Regions from separate parts of the Homo sapiens genome. Here region 2 is linked to region 1. Evidence: fine-mapped expression QTL. A gene starts in region 1. The other region holds a variant in brackets. All regions are shown on one strand. Distances are from middle to middle. Region 1 holds the start of GATC (glutamyl-tRNA amidotransferase subunit C). Region 2 overlaps COQ5 (coenzyme Q5, methyltransferase).

Evidence for each region.
Region 2: its variant is fine-mapped to the expression of GATC in whole blood (INTERVAL, PIP 0.99).

The regions. Positions count from the first base shown.
Region 1 is chr12:120,444,146-120,449,641 of GRCh38, forward strand. It overlaps GATC (glutamyl-tRNA amidotransferase subunit C), which reads left to right and starts at 2,299. Exons shown (of 4, transcript NM_176818.3): 1 at 2,299-2,416; 2 at 2,512-2,684. The coding sequence starts at 2,336. TRIAP1 (TP53 regulated inhibitor of apoptosis 1) reads right to left here and starts at 2,239. Exons shown (of 2, transcript NM_016399.3): 1 at 2,081-2,239; 2 at 1-810. The coding sequence starts at 2,227. The coding sequence ends at 727. RefSeq lists enhancers at 1,421-2,268, 1,580-2,779, 1,994-2,543, 2,141-2,435, 2,269-3,114.
Region 2 is chr12:120,514,275-120,519,274 of GRCh38, forward strand. It overlaps COQ5 (coenzyme Q5, methyltransferase), which reads right to left. Exons shown (of 7, transcript NM_032314.4): 3 at 2,293-2,514. Among named protein-coding and RNA genes, the nearest start is that of COQ5, 12 kb to the right of the region's middle. The variant C/T (reference allele first, on the strand shown) is at 2,413.

The sequences.
Region 1 (5,496 bases):
AGAGCTGGCAATAGCAGATCTTTGCAATTTAGGTTCTTCCTCCACAGCTATTCCAAGTATCTTAATTCCTGAACTGCACACTGAGAGCTCTGAAATGGTGTTCACTGCAACATTCTTGCAGCTTTCACATCTTAATCTGACACCTCTTGTGAAGGCAGGGAACTGTGTTAAAAGCTGTCTTCCTCTTTGCTAATCCAGGCCACCATCAATCTTAACCATTAGTTACTATATAAAAATAAAAGTGTGCTCAAAAGCACTCACTGAAACTGTTGTGCCCAGATCCCTTTTCAGAGCATTAGTTCCCTGAGAGGAAAAAAAGAGGTCCTAACCAATTGCTTTCATAAATAGTGACCCCAGTACAGTGTATATGTCTTTTGCAGCAGAAATCAAGAGGTCAGGCAGCTCTGCTCATCCTGACTAGTTTATCATCGTTTGCATACAAGGTATATTTATGTAAAGCTGATTCCACGCCAAGTATTGCAACCATAATCTCAAAAAAATTGTTCAATTTTAGCACACAGTTCCTGCAAGATACCACAGCAGGTGAGAAATCATCTCAAAGAGTTCATCTTTTACAACTGAGAGGAAAACATCGAAGGAGGAAATAAAACTCCTCTCTCCTAAGTTCCTCATCAAATCTGATGGCTATGTTCACAGAGTTAGTTGACAAAAATCCAGAGTCCTCAATTTCTGGACTTGCGAAATCCTTCAAGGTGACTGTCAAGGTCAAGAAGAATTTTCAGGCTTTTCTTTGCCATGGCCCATGAACTCCAGTCCTTCAATAGGAATCTCTTTCTCCTTTATTGCTTTCTGGTAGGAGGAGAAAACACATTATAAAGACCTACATGAAGCTTAAGTTGCAAGCTTTGTAAATAAAATATGACAGTACAAAAGTAAAATCAAGCTGATTATAAAGACTTATAACCATGATTCAAACCACATACTTTTTAAAAAACAAGTACCGGTCAGGTGTGGTGGCTCACGCCTATAATCGCAGCATTTTGGGAGACCAAGGCAGGTGGATCACTTGAGGCCAGAAGTTAGAGACCAACCTGGCCAACATGGCGAGACCCTGTTTATACTAAAAATACAAAAATTAGCTGGGCATGGTGGCGCATGCCTGTAAGCCCAGCTACTCGGGTGGCTGAGGCATGAGAATAGCTTGAACCTGGGAGGCGGAGGTTGCAGTGAGCTGAGATTGTGCCATTGCACTCCAGGCTGGGAGACAGAGTGAGACTCTGCCTCAAAAATAAATAAAAACCAGAAGTACCATAATGAATAAATCAAGTGTAAGACCTGAGGGAGACTGGAAAAGGAGTTGTGAGGGAACCGTTAAAATTAAGTGAAATTTGAAAAATAATCATCACTTTGTGTTAGTGAAAGACTTAGGTTCAAATCTGGGTTCCAGGACTTACTGGCTATGTGACTAACTGTAAATGGGATGAAGACAGCAACTACCTCGGGGAATTGCTGTGAGGATGTGTTGGGTTAACTTATTGGAAGTGCTTTGCCCGGTGCTGTTCTTAACAATTCAAAGCAGTTCCACATCCATTGGGCCAGAATAAACATTTCCTGGCTGCAGTTGCGGGGACTGGTCAAGAGAGAGAAACAGGCTAACGAAGGGTTTATAACAACAAAAAAATGTGACCCTCCAGTCTGAATTCTGAAGTATAATCCCGCCCAGACCCCAGCAGTAATAGTGGAAAAGTGCACCACCTGCGAAAGAACCAAGGAAACCTGATGCTAGTGAACTCGGATTAATCACTTCCTATTTCTGGGTGTTAGTTTTTTATGTATAAAATATGAGTAACTATGCCCACCTTGCGAGTTTAGGGTGAACACCAAATGAACCAAAGGATGTGACTGTGCTTCTTGAAAAGCACTGCCCCAATATTTGTCATTCGGAGAGACACCCAAGTGGCCTCGGTGGTGATGGTAGGGGAGCGAGCTCCTGCCACTGGCCTCACTGCGACTTTTCTCCACCCTTCCAGTCCAGTCCCAATCCCCGTAAAATACGATGAGTGTGGTGGGACACAGCGCCGAGAATGCAGGGCCTGGGAACAGAGGCGGGAGGGCTCACCTGAACACACTGCTGGTAGCGCTTGAAGAGGTCGGTGCACGGGTCCCCGGAGCTGTCCCCCTTGAGAAATTTCTCGGCGAACCAGCGATTGAAGCACTGGTCGTACTCGCGCTTCATGTCCGTGCATGCCTCCCCCACACTGTTCATGGCGACAGTGGTGGCGGCGGCGACGACGGCGCACTCTGATGTCATCACTCTCAGGCGCGTCGCTCGGCGTTACGCGCGGGCGCACTGCGGGGGCCAAGGAAGGAAGAAATGTGGTCGCGGTTGGTGTGGCTGGGCCTTCGGGCCCCTCTGGGCGGGCGCCAGGGCTTCACCTCCAAGGCGGATCCTCAGGTAAAGGCCAGGGCCATCTAGGCGGGTGGCGGAGCAAGCCGGGAGGCACTTCGGAGCGCCGGTGACCCACACTCCCCGCCTCATCCCTCCTCCAGGGCAGTGGCCGGATCACGGCTGCGGTGATCGAGCACCTGGAGCGTCTAGCGCTTGTGGACTTCGGCAGCCGCGAGGCAGTGGCGCGACTGGAGAAAGCTATCGCCTTCGCCGACCGGCTACGCGCCGTGGACACAGACGGGGTGGAGCCCATGGAATCGGTCCTGGAGGACAGGTAAACTCGCGGCTGCAGCCCCGAAGCCTTGACCGTGGCCCGTTCGCAGCCGTTTAATGTGACGATTAGCGAACAGTTTTCCAGGGGGTTAAAGAGTGTTAGCAAGATTCAGGAACTTGCCCACAGTCACCTCGCGAGTCAGTGGCTTCACTCTTCCCCTTGTTCATTACTGATGCTCTCGCTAGTGTAAGTGGAAACAAAACCCGAACTGCTAATCACTGCCTTTGTTTTTTTTTTTGTTTGTTTGTTTTGTTTTTTTTTTTTTGAGACGGAGTCTCGCTGTGTTGCCTAGGCTGGAGTGCAGTGGCTCGATCTCGGCTCACTGCAACCTCCGCCTCCCGTGTTCAAGCAATTCTCTGCCTCAGCCTCCCGAGTAGCTGGGATTACAGGCGACTGCCACCAGGCCCGGCTTATTTTTTTTGTATTTTTAGTAGAGACGTGGTTTCACCATCTTGGCCAGGTTGGTCTTGAACTCCTGACCGTGATCCACCCGCCTCGGCCTCCCAAAGTGCTGGGATTACAGGTGTGAGCCACCGCGCCTGGCCTAATCATCGCCTTTAAGGCCCTACTCCATAGAGTCCCTACCTACTCACTCCAACGTACTCTTCTCAGTACTCTCCTTGGCTACCTTGACTGCTTCTCCAGCAAGACAAGTTCTTTTCCTCTCTAGATCTCTGCACTGGCCCTTCGTTTTTTTCCTTCCTCTCAGTATTTGCATGGCTGCCTCCCTCTTGGCACAGGTCTCAGCTTATCTTCTCAGAAAGGGCTCTCCTAACCACTCCAAATCCCTTCTCCCCTTCTAGTTAGTAACTCATCCTATTGGGTTTTTTCCCTAACATTTTAATGGACTTTTGTTCATTTGTTATATCTCTTTTATTAAAATGTGAGCTCATTATGTAGTTACTGTTTTATTCCTGCCTTGAATTTTTATTTTATTTGTTTTTGAGATGGAGTCTCACTCTATCACCCAGGTTAGAGTGCAGTGGCATGATCTCAGCTCATTGTAATGTCCACCTCCCAGACTCAAGAGAGCCTCCCATCTCAGCCTCCCAAGTACAGGACCACAGGCGCGTGCCACTTGGCCTGGCTAATTTTTTGTATTTTTGATAGAGACGGGATTTTGCCATGTTCCCCAGGCTTGTCTGGACTCCTGAGCAAAGGTGATCCACCCATCTCAGCCTCCTAAAGTACTGGGATTACAGGCATGAGCCACAGCACCTGGCCGTGTTTGATTCTTTCAAATGTCTTCTCTACTTTGCAATTTTCTTTTTCCTTTGGGACGGGGTCTCACTATGTTGCCCAGGCTGGTCGCAAACTTCTAGACTCAAGAGATCCTCCTGCCTCAGCCTCCCAAATAGCTGGGACTATAGGTGTGCACCACCACACCTGGCTAATACTTAAAATTTTTGTAGAAACGGGGTCTTGCCATGTTGCCCCATATGGTCTCAAACTCCTGGTCTCAAGCAATCCTCCTGCCTCAGCCTCCCACTTCCTCAAGAAAGTTTTTTTTTTTTTTTGAGGTGGAGTCCTGCCCCATCACCCAGGCTGGAGTGCAGTGGCATGATCTTGGCTCACTGCAACCTCCACCCTCCAGGTTCAAGTGATTTTTGTGCCTCAGCCTCCGGAGTAGCTGGGATTACAGGCACCCGCCACCACACTCAGCTAGTTTTTGCATTTTTAGTAGAGACAGGGTTTCACCATGTTGACCAGGCTGGTCTCGAACCCCTGGCCTCAAGTGATCCGCCCATCTTCGCCTCCCAAAGTGCTGGGATTACAGGTATGAGTCACTGCACTGGCCAAAAAAGTCCATTCCTTTTTTTTTTTTTTTTTTTTTGAGACGGAGTTTCACTCTTCCACCCAGGCTGGAGTACAGTGGTGCAATCTCAGCTCACTGCAACCTCCACCTTCCGGTTTCAAGTGATTCTCTTGCCTCAGCCTCCCGAGTAGCTGGGACTACAGGCGCCCGCCACCACGCCCAGCTAATTTTTGTATTTTTAATAGAGACGGGGTTTCACCATGTTGGCCAGGCTGGTCTCGAACTCATGACCTCACAGTCCACCCGCCTCGGCCTCCCAAAGTGCTGGGATTATAGGCGTGAGCCACAAGTCTTCATTCTTTTATACTTAGGTTCTTTTTTTTTTTTTTTAATTGAGACAAGAGTCTCGCTCTGTCGCTGAGGCTGGAGTGCAGTGGCGTGATCTTGGCTCACTGCAAGTTCCGCCTCCTGGGTTCATGCCATTCTCCTGCCTCAGCCTCCCAAGTAGCTGGGTCTACAAGTGCCCACTACCACGCCTGGCTAATTTTTTGTATTTTTAGTAGAGATGAGGTTTCACCGTAGCCAAGATGGTCTCGATCTCCTGACCTCGTGATCTGCCCACCTCAGCCTCCCAAAGGTGCTGATTACAGGCGTGAGCCACTGTGCCTGGCTATACTTAGGTTCTCTACCTGTGGCTCTCGTGATATCCAAAAGGGCTGATTTATACATGCGTTTATACATCTATTTAAGGGATGTGTTGAGTCTCTGCCCCTCTCCTGCTCACCCACCTTCCACAGCATGTCTGTTTTTCCTTATCATGTTCTCAGTGGTTGGCACTGAGTATTCAGTAAATGTGTTTTGTTTTGTTTTGTTTTGTTTTTTTGAGATGGAGTCTCACTCTGTTGCCCACGCTGGAGGCAGTGGCGTGATCTCGGCTCACTGCAACCTCTGCCTCCTGGGTTTGAGATTCTCTTGCCTCAGCTTCCCGAGCACCCGGGATTACAGGCATGCACCACCATGCCTGGTTAATTTTTGTATTTTTAGTAGAGAGGGGTT
Region 2 (5,000 bases), 70 kb after region 1:
GGAGGAAGAGGAGGAAGATTTGAGCTAAAATAACCATAGACACTCATGGTGGGGGAGGAGAAGGAGAGAAATGCTGATGTTGACCTGAGGGACGTTCTTTGTTATATACCACTGCCCCTCACAGTGGCCATCTGTGGTCCCTGGCCAGCATGGAAGAGGGCAGAATAGCGGCTCTGAAAAGCTGGGCTGGGCGCAGTGGCTCACACCTATAATCCCAACACTTTGGGAGGAATGGGTGGACAGATCACATGAGACCAGGAGTTCGAGACCAGCCTGGCCAACATAGTGAAACCCCGTCTCTACTAAAAATACAAAAAAATTAGCCGGGTATGGTGCTGCGCAGCTGTAATCCCAGCTACTCGGGAGGCTGAGGCACAAGAATTGCTTGAACCCGGGAGGCAGAGGTTGTAGTGACCCGAGATCGCTCCACTGTACTCCATCCTGGGCAACAGGGCAAGACTCTGTCTCAGAAACAACAACAACAACAACAACAACAACAACAACAACAAAAACTGGGCCAACAGGGTGCAGTTGCCAGGACGGAGTTTCTCTCTTGTTGCCTAGGCTGGAGTGCAATGGCACCATCTTGGTTCACCACAACCTCCACCTTCCAGGTTCAAGCAATTCTCCTGCCTCAGCCTTCAAATAGCTGGGATTACAGGCATGTGTCACCACACCCAGCTAATTTTGTATTTTTAGTAGAGACAGGGTTTCTCCATATTGGTCAGGCTGGTCTCGAACTCCAGACCTCAGGGGATCCACCCCCCCTCGGCCTCCCAAAGTGCTGAGATTACAGGCGTGAGCCACCACGCCTGGCCAAATTTGCTTTTTTTTTGAGACAGGGTCTTACTCTGTTGCCCAGGCTGGAGTGCAGTGGCATGATCATGGCTCACTGCAGTCTCGACCTCCTGGATTCAAGTGATCCTCCTGCTTCAGCCTCCCAAGTAGCTGTTACTACAGGTGTGTACCACCACACTTGGCTAACTTAAATTTTTTGTAGAGACAGAGTCTCACTATGTTGCCTAGGCTGGTCTTGAACTCCTGGCTTCAAGCGATCCTTCACCCTCAGCGTTCCAAAGTGCTGGGATTACAGGCATGAGCCACCTCGCTGCCACAATTTACATTTTTAAGCTAGCACACAAATCATCCATTTTGAGCTTGCAGTAATCTCACAGAGATAGGCATGCAGTCATCTGCCTATCTGCTGTTCGTATTTACCACAGTGGGGAAGTGTGAGGAGTACTGTTCACGAGTGTTTCTTTGAGTGTATCAGATGGGTCCTCTGAGAAACATGCTGAGATGGACCAAGGAGTATAATAATTTTTTGTGTGTGTGGCAGGGGAAACACAGAGTAGACAAAGGGAGAGGAAGAAAGACTGAGCAAGAAAAGCCTTTAGACCTTAATGCAGATCTGACAAAGGCTCAGCCTACCCAATAGGGACCTCCAGAACAAAGGCTGGCTGTTAAAGAGTCTTGCTTGGAAAATATCCAGGCCCTAGTAGTCCCACAGTGTTCAGCCATTGGCTACGAGCTGCCACAAAAGAGCCTGGCCTCCCTTGGAAACTGAGGCAGAGGCTGATGTGCTAATAGGTGGAGGCTGCTAGCTAACTGCACTCCTTGTGGCTGAAGGGCAAGTTATTTCTTTTTTTATTGTTTAAGTTTCTTTAGAGACAGGGTCTCACTCTGTCACTCAGGCTGGAGTGCAGAGGTGCAATCATAGCTCACTGCAGCCTGGAACTCTTGGGCTCAAGTAATCCTCCTATTGTGGCCTCCCAAAGTTCTGAGATTATAGGTGTGAGCCATGGGCTCAGCCAGAAGTTCTTTCTTTACAGGAGATGAGAGGTCCAGTTGCACAGCAATCAAACTATCCTAGTATGGACAGGAGAATGGAATGGTTCAAGAATGGGAATGATACACCGAAGTCACCCTGAAGCTGCTGGGAAATGACAGCAAAACTTCTGTCTCAGGGTCTCAGAGCTGAGATCTGAAGATTCAACTCCAATTTGGGATCTGCCACTGAGAAGTTGTGTGACTTGGGTAAGATTCTTGACTTACTTGGGATCTAGTGATCCCAGTCACATAGGGCTGGGTAAGCTCACTCAATGGGCTGCTATGCATACATAATGCATATAACAGCACACAAACTAGATTCAGCCATGCAAATCATCTTCAACCTGCCCATCTATAAGTTTCTGAAAGCCAAAAGATAAAGCATTTCAATATTTTACATATTCCACCTTATTCTATAAAGATACAAATACTTCCCCTGTGTCTGCCTTCTGCAGGACTCACCAGCTCTGTATCCTTGAGCCAAGGCTTTCTGCTTTCCAACCTTTAGCATCTCCTTGTTGATGTCACACACCACGACACGAGACCCGCCCAAGGAATCTTCTTCATTCTGGTACTCTTTGG[C/T]AATTTCTTCCCAGGATAAATTTTGTTGGGCCCTTAACTGCCTCTTCTGTTTTCTCTGATGCTGGGACTGAACATAATTAAGGAACCGGAATGCAATGTCACCTGTGGGAAGCCAACATGAGGAAAGATGCAGACTAAAACAAAAATAAAAAAGGAAGAAACAGCATTTCCTAAAACCCAAAGGGGTAACAGAGGCACAGGAGTACCTGTGTTAGCTAACTGGATGCAGTGTGGCTGAAAGCCAAGTCCTTTCTTCTTTTTGTTAGAGACAGGGACTCACTCCATCACCCTAGCTGGAGTGCAGAGGCACAATCATAGCTGAGTGTGTGAACGTGGAAGTTTCTACTCATTTCAACACTAACTTTTTTTTTTAATTAAAGAAATTGGGCTGGGCTCATGCCTGCAATCTCAGCACTTTGGGAGGCTGAGACTGGGGGATCACCTGAGGTCAGGAGTCTGAGACCAGCCTGGCCAACATGGTGAAACCCCGTCTCTACATTTTTAAAAATACAAAAATTAGCCAGGTGTGGTGGCAGGCGCCTGTTATCCCAGCTACTTGGGAGCCTGCGGCAGGAGAATAGCTTAAACCTGGGAAACAGATGTTGCAGTGGGCCGAGATAGCGCCATTGCACTCCAGCCTGAGTGACAAAAGCGAAACTCCGTCTCAAAAATAAATAAATAAATAAATAAAATAAAAACTGAGGCCGGGCGCGGTGGCTCATGCCTGTAATCCCAGCACTTCGGGAGGCCGAGGCGGTTGGATCACGAGGTCAGGAGATCGAGACCATCTTGGCTAACATGATGAAACCCCGTCTCTACTAAAAAAATACAAAAAAAAAAAAAAAATTAGCCAGGCGTGGTGGTGGGTGCCTGTAGTCCCAGCTACTCAGGAGGCTGAGGCAGGAGAATGGCATGAACCCAGGAGGCAGAGCTTGCAGTGAGCCAAGATCGCGCCACTGCACTCCAGCCTGGGCGACAGAGCAAGACTACATCTCAAAAAAAAAAACCAAATCAAGTGTTTATAATACTGTGACCTGGTAAATATTGTTCAGGACAAATCCAGTGCTTTGTAGAATCCTATTTCCTTTCTTTTTTCCTCTCTTTTCTATATTTCCTTTTCTTTCTTTCTTTTTTTTTGAGATGGAGTTTCTGCTCTTGTTGCCCAGGCTGGAGTGCAATGGCGCGATCTGAGCTCACTGCAACCTCTGCCTCCCAGGTTCAAGTGATTCTCCTGCCTCAGCCTCCCAAGTGGCTGGGATCACAGGCATGTGCCACCAAACCTGGCTAATTTTGTATTTTTAGTAGAGATAGGGTTTCATCATGTTGGTCAGGCTGGTCTCGAACTCTTGACCTCAGGTGATCCACTCGCCTCGGCCTCCCAAAGTGCTGGGATTACAGGCATGAGCCATTGCGCCTGGCCCTATATTTCCTTTCTTATAATGCTGTTTCCGGCTGGGCTCGGTGGCTCACGCCTGTGATCCCAGCACTTCAGGCTTCAGGAGGCTGAGGTAGGCAGATTGCTTGAGCCCAGAGGTTTGAGACCAGCCTGGGTAACATGGTGAAACTCAGTCTCTACGAAAAAAATTACAAAAATTAGCCAGGTGTGGGGCACATGCCTGTATTCCTAGCTATTTGGGAGGCTGAGATGGGAAGATTACTTGAGGCCTGGGGGGTGGAGGTTGCAGTAAGCCGAGATGACGCCACTACACTCCAGCCTGGCGAAAGTGCAAGACCGTTTCCAAAAAAAAAAAAAAAAAAAAGCTGTTTCCTTGTCTTTGTTTTTCCTACACTATTTCCAAGAAATATATCCTTGTTTCTCCCATATGTCCAACCAATTAGGTATTCTCCAGTCATTCTCCAGTCATTTTTTATTTTATATCTTTTTTTTTTTTTCCCTGAGACGGAGGCTCGCTCTATTCCCAGGCTAGAGTGCAGTAGCACGATCTCAGCTCACTGCAACCTCCGCTTCCCAGGTTAAAGCAATTCTCCTGCCTCAGCCTCCTGAGTAGCTGGGATTACAGGCGTGTGCTACCACGCCCAGCTAATTTTTGTATTTTTAGTAGAGACAGGGTTTCACCACATTGGTCAGGCTGGTCTCAGACTCCTGACCTCGTGATCCACACGCCTCAGCCTCCCAAATGCTGGGATTACAGGCGTGAGCCAACGTGCTCGGCCATATATTTCAATATATTAATTATTTTGTGCATCTTCTCTGTATCATTCCAAATTTAGTATATGCGCTACTGAAGTGAGCACGATATTTCAATATATTTATAGGTATGCATATAACAACATTTAAAAACATAAACAGGGATATTGTATACATTGTTATACCACGTGTTTTCTTATTCTTCCCACTTAATATGTCCTTGCAACCTTTCCATCATTACTTGTAAGTTTTCCTTATTGTTTTAAATAGATAAACAATATTTCATAGACTGGATATGCCTTAATTTAAAGCCATGTCCTTATTGGGAAGAAATAGGTTATTTCCAATTTTTAATTACTATTAAATGTGATGCAATGAGCGTATATGTGACTAAATCTTTGTGGAAGTTTTTCTTTAGGCGACATAGAATTGAAAATGT